Homo sapiens: one gene and its partner. The protein of the gene in region 2 purifies or fractionates together with the protein of the main gene of each other region. This does not show direct contact. Each region holds a gene or a part of one and is shown on either strand. Other genes may lie near its edges.

Region 1 (3,757 bases), on a different chromosome or scaffold from region 2:
GAATTCCAGAAAATGAGATGCTCCCCAAATTTCACATTGAATAGCCATACAATTTTCTAGCTGGAAGATACACAGAATAAGAAGCTATCTTCTTTAGCCACATTATCTATTGATAATCAGACTAAAACCAAGAAAGATAAAATGATTGGTCCAAAGCTCCTAAAGTGGCATTACCTAGCATTTTATGGCACCATTCAGGATTGTTCCATAATAATCAAAGAATATCTCTAGGCTTTGTATCTCTTGAAAACTCAAAGTACAGAATTCTTTCTGAGTTAAATATTAACTTTTTCACTCATGATTTATGCTACTTACATGATAGGATCATGTATGCCTACACTTACTACATTTTGTTAAACAACATAATGTAAAAATCTAATTCAACAGAAACATTTGAATATGAAGGTATACCTCTCTATCACCATCCTTATTTATTTCTGGTTCTTGAGACATTTTCTGCAGAGGCAAAAACAGAAGGTTAATTTGCTTGTTGTGTTTCTGTGATGTCTCCTCTTTTGGAGCGCATGTTTTAAAAAAATTTTATTCTTAACTAATGAAGTATGGACGATGAAAAATTAGAAAATAATTAAAATTAAAATTTAACTGTTAAATAAATAATAATTAAAATTAAGAATTAACTTTTTAATCTATGTTTAGCTACTGCCACATTACTGGCTTCTGACTAACATGTGAAAAATAATTCACCTTAGCCCAACGAAGAAAAAAAACGTGAACCAGCAAACTTAACTTGGTCACCATTTGTTTGGACTAAACTTGTTATGTGTTAAATCTACCAAAAATGAATCAGCAGATGATTTGTAGTGTTCCAAAATCTTCCTCACTTGAAAAGAGTTTACCTCATGAAACCCTAACTAGTGAGCCCCTACAGTGCACTGAAGTGCTTTTCTAAAAGATTCCTAACTGGATTGTAGGCACCATTTAAATTATTAGGAGCCGAAATCAACACCAAACAGAAAGAGATGCAATTTCTCAAATTTTAATTGAGATTATATACTGTCATATGATAGTGTTATGTATCCAGATTATCTGCTTAAGTCCAGTTCTAATATATTCTAATGTGTACTAATTACAGTGGATAAAGATTTTTTTAATAATATGTACTAATTTTCTGCAACTGAAATAAATTAGAATGTTATTGTGTTTGTGCACTAACACCAAAGGTTCCATTCTGCAAGATATGATTCTTGTAATAGGCAGCTGTGTTGCTTTTATGACCTGGTTCCCTCCCTGAACAGAAACGCTGAGGTCAATGAGAGACCATAAGGCAGAATATATTTTTAACCTTGGTATCAGTGACTGACAATATAAAACTGCAGATTTTCAATCACTGGCCATGATTACTCCTTAACCATGAATCCAGCTCAGGGACCATCAGAGTTACATTGTTCATAATTCTATTGCTTAATAACATAATCCAATAATTGATGTACCTTCTTCATCATGTTCGGGTGTTGTAAAAATAAAAGAACAAAGTTCTGAAATTTGTTTTTGCCTCTATTCCAAAAGGAAAGATTAGCTATAAGCTAATCAAAAAGGCAGATGAGAATATTTTAAATAAAAATATTATAAAATAAGAGTATTTTAAATTTTATAGTGGTTATGTTTTTTAAGTTAAATATCAAATGTTAAATTAGAATCCATTCTTCTGTTAATGAGATTACTGAATTTATTAAAATAAATTTTAACAATCTATTAAAAAATTCTTTAAAAAATCTATTGATTCTCAAAACCTAGTCTGAAAGGTAATTTCATTTGGACTATCTAATATTATTAAAGCAAAGAAAACAACATTAAATCAAAAATTTAAATTTAAAATTTCCCATGCCTCTGGCTGGCTATTTTCACTGCCTTTGAACCTTTGTGACTCTTCCTCTGATGTCAGCTTTAAGTCTTGTTCTGTTGAGAAATCCATATATTCAGTTAAAATGAACCACTTAGAACAGTTAAAAACTATTGCCTTTATAAAAATAGATTTAAGACAACATTTTATTTCATAAATTGAGTGTTTAGTTTTTCATGAAATAGTTATTTAGGAAATAATTCTCCCAAACTTCAACAAACCACTTGGGGAGACACCTGATGTCATTCACTCACAAATTCATCCACCCAACATAAATGAACAAAACCACCAGAAACACAACTTTAAAATACAGTAGAAACATATAAGGTAACACAGTATGTTGTTCTCCACTTCCTAATAGTGAAGCAGTAAATGTAAAGAAAAGGAAATTTAGTTTTAAAGAGAAACAAGTTTTCCCGCACTTAGCTAGTCTGACTCTAAGGATAGTAACAAGCAGGGCCCAGGAAAGGTCATGGTGACCCTGCCTGAGAAGCCAGAGCCCACAGGTATGGGCTCCAGACATCCCACAGCAAGGTTAAGAAAACAAAATCCTTTACTGTCTCCCCTTCCCCTCAGCATTCACTCAGAGCTGTTTTTACAAATGCATATTATTTGCAAGTTCCTGTTGTCCTTCAATGCAGCTGCAAGGTCATAAGCTACGCTGAGGTTGCAAAACTGTCACTATATGATTAACTGCCTTTGTTCTGCTTCTGTAAGCTTGCCTACATAAGCCAAGCCCTGTCTTTGTTCAGGGCTCAGCTTTCGGATGCAAATCCGCTGAGCTGGTGCGAACCTAAATGAAATCCTCCTGTTTCACCCACTTGGTCTCTCCTGCCTCCTGTTTTCTGCAACAATAGTACCTTACAAATGATTTCAAAAATTACTACTGACACCTTTATTAGTGTACAATCTCTTCCCAATATCTAAAATGTTTCCCTCCACGATTCAGACATATTTATTTTCATTTTTCTTTCTTTTTTTTTTTTTGAGCCAGGGTCTTGCTCTGTCACCAGGCTGGAGTGCAGTGGCGCAATCTCAGCTCACTGCAACCTCTGACACTCCCTGGTTCAAGCGATTCTCCTGTCTCAGTCTCCGGAGAAGCTGGGATTACAGGCATGCACCATCATGCCCTGCTAATTTTCGTGTTTTTAGTAGAGACGGGGTTTCACCATTGGCCATGATGGTCCTGATCTTTTGACCTTGTGATCTGCCTGCTCCAGCCTCCCAAAATGCTGGGATTAGAGGTGTGAGCCACCACACTTATCCTTATTTTTATCTTTTAAAACAATGCTATGAGAACGTCTTCCTTGATTCTGCATGTCTTTCCCCAGATAAACAGGTACCTCCTTCCTTGAGGCTGCCTTAGTACTTCACTGATTTTTCTACTGCATCTTTACCACCTGAACTCTACATTATTCCTCCACATGTCTGTCCCGTCTGCTCCAAGACTGCAGAGGACAGTCTTGCACATCATCTTACTCACATTTTACTCAGAAATTTCTTATTGAGTCCTGCTAAATACATGCTAGGCATTAGGGTTTAAAAACAATTAAAATAAAGCATGTCAGGGATGGCTTTTCTAGAAAACATGCCCAAGCAGAGACTTAAATATTGAGACTAGCCAGATTAAAAGGGGTAGAGGGCAGGAAAGGGTGACGGCATGCCACACAGCAGCAAGAGCGGGAGCGAGGCCTGAAAGAGTGAAAATATTTGCCTACAATAGAAGGATGAGTGAGTAGGGCATTGCCAGCAGCTCAGTAATGCCAGAGAAAGGGCACACAGGGAAAAGGCCTAAAGATGGAGAGTGGGGCAGAAGTCAGATTATGAAAGCCTTATGTGTAATTTTAAGATGCCTGGACATTAATGTTCAAGAGAGGTCCCTGATCCTATCTGCAT
Region 2 (5,219 bases):
CACCAACTCCCACCCCAACCCTTGACCATATTTCAGGTCAAGGTGGAACAGGTTACGCACTATGCAATGACCCGTGACCAGCAGGAGAGGCAGGCTGAAATGCAGCCTGTGCTCCTCTTGTGAAGCTGTGCACCCTAATATGACAGGGCTGTATTCACCTGGAGGAAGGGAGATATTTTCCTAATTAGCCCAAAGGCGCTATCCACTGCCCAGCTGCGTACTTATGGGGCTGCTTCCACTCAGAGGGGTGCCTTTTCCTAAGTCATACAAAGGGCGCCATATGGACGAATTGTAACCCTGGCTCTTGGCCTTTCTTTCCGCTGGCCACTGTCCTCTCATTTGGGCTCTTAAGAGGCCTTTCACTGGGCAGAGGGGGAAACTAAGTCCCAACGTCTGCTGCCATTAGCTTCCTTCTGAGGGAATTGCTCACAGGTCCCACATATCAGTGTCCAGTCAGGCTACAGATGGTTGGGCCAAGGGAGGACACCTGACCTAAGGGATCCCGCCAAAAGCTAAGCCAAACCAATCAGATCCTTTTGCTTGTGAATTGAAACTAAGAGGCACAGAGGGGAGTTGTCAGTCACTGGTGAGTCTTGATACCGAGTTGGAGATTCAGCCACTGTGTGCAACAAAACCAAAGAAGTCTGAAGAGAAGCCCAGGAAAAGAGCATGGATGCAAATACTGCCCAGGGAACAAGAGCCTGCAAGACCCAGAGATGGTAAGGAAGAGGCCCAGTTGCCAGTTCCAGTTCTCTTGAGGTTCAGCCAGTTTTTATTTTATTTTTATTTTTATTTTTTTATTTTTTTTGAGATGGAGTCTTGCTCTGTCACCAGGCTGGAGTGCAGTGGTGCGATCTCGGCTCACTGCAACCTCCGCTGCTCACTGCAACCTCAGCCTCCTGGGTTCAAGCAATTTTCCTGCCTCAGCCTCCCGAATAGCTGGGACTATAGGCGTGCACCACCATGCCCAGCTAATTTTTGTATTATTAGTATGTTGGCCAGGATGGTCTCGATCTCGACCTTGTGATCTGCCCCTTGGCCTCCCAAAGTACTGGGATTACAGGTGTGAGCCTCTGCGCTTGGCCTGAGGTTCAGTCATTCTTGATTTTCCATCTTCAGAGTCCCTTATAATCTGCTCCCCCATTTCTTTGAACTAGCTCAAGTGAGTCTCATGCCATGTTCCCAGAGTCCTTGCTAGAACAAGGACCTTGGCCCTTCACTGAGTGAGCCTCCCCAGGCCTCTTCTGTCCCTTTCTCCCCACCCCAATCCTGTCCCAGTGTAGGGAAGAGCAGGAGCCCTCAGCACAGTTGCACCTTTTATTCACTGTCAGTGGGGAAAGAAACACACCACACAGCACAGGGTTGAGCAGTGAGGGCAGTCACTGAGTGCACAGCCAGAAGCAGCACATCTGGAGGGGATAGGGGGCTACACTGGAACTGGCCTCCTTCCCCTGCTACCCAGACCCCCCACTTCCCCAAGCCTCCTTTCTACTGCTGCTTAGAAGGCCCTGGGCCTGACTGGCCTCCACCAAGCAGGAAGGGCTATACACCCTGGCAGGCCCAGTCCTGCCCCCACACTCTGGCAAAGGTAAAAAGAAAACCTCGAAAATTCCAGAAAGAAAATCCCATATTTTTCTGACTTTTTAATTCCAAGGTTTGAATTATTTCTTTTTTCAAGAATGATGAATAAAACATGTAAGACATTCTTGACCCCACAGTGATCTCTAAAGTCAGCTCAAAGCCTCACCCAGGGTGGATCTTCAGGAAATATTTGTTGCTTCAATACATTTTTGTGTAAAAAATATTTAGTGTCAGCTTACTACCCTGCCTGGAGACCCCAGCTTCTTCTCTTTCTTTTCTTTCCCCCATCCCACGCCATTCCTTCTCTCTCTGCAGCAAGGCAAATTTCTACCTCTAGAGACTCTGCCATTGTCAGGAAAGGATTTAGTGCCTTTACTTATGAACTAACTTTTTCTTCACTTTTGATATACAGGTAAGTTAAATAATCCTGACTACAGCTGAAAGGACTAAAGTGGCCATCTGAAGTAGCCTTTGCTGATAATTTTTAGAGATAAGAAATAAGATGCTCATCAATTAGCCCAAAAGGATGAATGAGGGTAGAGTATGTGAGAAGGCAGATTCTGGGACCTTGCAATTCACAGAGTTGTTGCAATAAGATTGGAATTTAAAGGAGAGTTTGAATATATCAATGTTTTGATTGTCTGTATATTTTTGTGTCTGTGCAAGTCATACATAAATCTCTGCCAGCCTTGTGCTTTGCGGCAAGTCTCTCTCAGCTGGTGCAGGGACGGGAGACCTGTGTCTCTTCTCAAGGCAGGGCCAGTGCTCTACCACAGTGCTCCTGAGCACACAGTCCCTGGGACACCCAGGAGTATGCAGGAGCATGTCCTGGGCCACCTGTTGTTCCTTCCATCAGCAAGATGGTGGTCCCAGTTCCTGGCCTGGCATTGTGTGTTCACACTGCTGGGCTGTCTGAGAATATTGGGCCTGAGGAGCAAAAATCACCCATGGGTATGTGTGTCCAGAAGCCTGGAGTAATCAAACACGCCTTCATGGGTAGGCATGTTTCTCTTAGTGAAGATGATGGTGGGTAAAGACAATGCAGGATGCTTCGAGGGTTCTGAGTCAGAGGACTCCCAGGACAGCACTGAGCTGTTAGCACAGCTGCCAGAGGCAGAACACTGAGTGCTTGAAAATGTGGGGACTTCAACCAAGCTCCTATTTTTTTTGGAAGACCACAATCTCAGAAGCTTTTTAGCAGGAAGCCTATAAAGGATGAATATCAATGTAACTTGCCCTGCTGTCAACCTCTGCACAGCTTAGTCACAGAAATGGACAGGGAAGAGACTCTGAAAAGAAGAAATCCTCTTAGAGCCTTGGTTCAAGTCTTAGCCCTGTGTCACCTCCTGACTATGTGATCTTGCACAAGGGATGCTTCCTCTCTGAATCTCAGCTTCCAAGTCTAGAGAAAAGAAGTGAAAATCCTCACCTCCATGGGATGTGAGTATAGAATGAGATGGGGCACATGGCAAGCCTTTGAAAGCCATGAAATTCTGTGTGGTTGCGAATTAGGCTAGATTCAGCATTTGCAGGGAAGGAACCTCACTTAGTGAAAAGCTTTTCACCAGAAGATTTAGGTCCCAGCTAAGCCAGGCTGGTGAGCATCTATGTGTCTGTGATGCTGACTGACCGCACAAGACATACCTAATAGCCAGTTCCTGGGAGCAATGCAACATCCTTGAGGCATTGCTGGATAAACAACTGCTAGTTCCTGCCTGAGGATGTGAACTCCCCAGCCTCACCATATGGCTGGTCATGAGCAAGAGGATAGCAAAAGGATAGCAACCCAGTGGTTGCAAACCAGTGGTTGCTATCCCCAGCAAGAGGATAGCAACCCAGTGGCCTTGCTACCTCCAAGGGCCCAGTAGAGCTTGGGACCAAGCTCTATTGATCAGCATCCCCCAGAGTTTTCACCTGCAGAGAAGCAGGACAGGTGGGCACTCAGGAGTGAGGAGCATGCTGCATCTCTTTCCTGCAGATGCAATTCCCCTGCCCCGGGCTCAGCAATCATTTCCTGCTCCCACCCTGGGCTGACAGCACCTGTGTACTAGACTGTTTTCACCGGCAGTTCAAGAGGAAATCAACTGTCACTGCACGTCAAAGGTAATTTCTGATCACAAGTACAGGAGAAAGACCTGATGAAGAAGCAAGATTAATTTTTCCGGCAGTCAAAGCATGCAGCTGTATAGCTCATGGATCCAAAATTGGGAAGCAGGCATTGGAAAGCAGAACCAGCACACTTGGAAGATGTTGAACTACCTGGCAGATCTAAGATTTGGGGTTAGAAAAAGCCTCTCAAACAGAGCATGCCTGGCACATTTTTAGGCATTTCGTCCATAAATTATGTCTGGGTGCCTAAACAGTGGCCAGGTGAGCCTTTTCTTCTAGCTCTTTCTGATTCTGTGGCAGTGAAGGAACAAGTCCAGTTCTGAAACTAAACCCAATCCAGAAACGAACTACCAAGATACGGAATATACACTAGTTTCACTCTTTGCAAACCTTGCTTTTTCCTGTCCCTGAAGTCAGCACCCAACCGGAGTAAGTATGTAGCAGAAAGTTGCTTGTTGAATTGAAAAAGGTAATAAAAAGGAAGAGCTGAAGCAGCAAAAACTGCTGAGAGTGGCAGCTCAGGACTTAGTCTTAAAAAGTGTTATCTGGTAAATTTCATGGTCTTTTCTCCCTTTCTTCTCAGGTTTTTTCCCCTTGAAAATTAATATTTTCTCTATTCATTTAATCATTTTATAAGAAACCAAGTAATATAGAGTATATTTTAACCTCCTGAAATAATAAAATGACTGTAGCTCCTTTAAAGGGTACTAAAAAAATAAGTATGACATAAATTTCATTTTTCTTAAAACTTTCACTCACGTGGCTCCTAAACTTCCAAATGCTTTTCATTTCGTCCTTCTGCAGCTTTGTGTGGAGCTGAGCTGGAAGATGAAATAGCTCCTCCCAGACTAACCAGCCTTCCAGCACCTTCTGCTTAGCTGAGACCCTGACGGCTGGAAGTTTGCCTCACAACCCTATGAGCTTCCAGAGGGCACAAGATGTGTCTTGTAAATGACCATATCCTTAGCACCAAACAGGTGCTCAGTAATCATTAGCTGAAGAAAGGACTGAATGAACGCTCCAAAGGCTGGGGCTGGAAGGGCCAGGTAGAGTAGAAGGGATGGGGAAGAGACCCCCTTTATGGGATCTGGAGCCTCAGGAATGGACAGACCCAATTTGGCCCTGTGACAGGCCTGTGGGACCACATCCTATAAAGCATAATCCCAGGATCAAGAGAATTCCTAACCAGAACCCCAGGCCCCCAACTCCTTAACCTCACCTCCTGGGGCAAAAGCCAACTCCCCTATGCCCAATGGACATTGGTTCTGGCCAAGTGGGAGGTGGGGCTAGAAGACAGGGTACTGGAGGACCTGTCTCTTTTGCAGGGTGAGGTGGTCCCTCAAAGATCTTGATGGAGGGGAGGAAGGGCTTGGGCAGAGGACTGGGTGGGCCAGAGAGGGGGGCTGGAGTGTCCCTCCTCCTGGGAGGCCAGCCAGAGAGGTCATCAGGTTGGGAGGTGGCCATGCCCCTTCTGGCCAGGGACCCTGCCCCTCACCAGCTTCTACTTCTGCATGTCACACTGCAGCAGC

Evidence for each region.
Region 1: the proteins of HPCAL4 (region 2) and POTEI purify together in Homo sapiens (affinity purification with mass spectrometry; one large-scale study listed by BioGRID and IntAct). This does not show direct contact.

What each region holds. Positions count from the first base shown.
Region 1 is NC_000002.12:130,488,824-130,492,580, forward strand, and holds part of POTEI (POTE ankyrin domain family member I), read right to left. Parts: intron 1,918-3,757; coding exon 1,847-1,917; intron 457-1,846; coding exon 412-456; intron 1-411.
Region 2 is NC_000001.11:39,677,345-39,682,563, forward strand, and holds the end of HPCAL4 (hippocalcin-like protein 4), read right to left. Parts: coding exon 5,192-5,219; 3' UTR 1,304-5,191; downstream 1-1,303. UniProt on the Homo sapiens protein: May be involved in the calcium-dependent regulation of rhodopsin phosphorylation.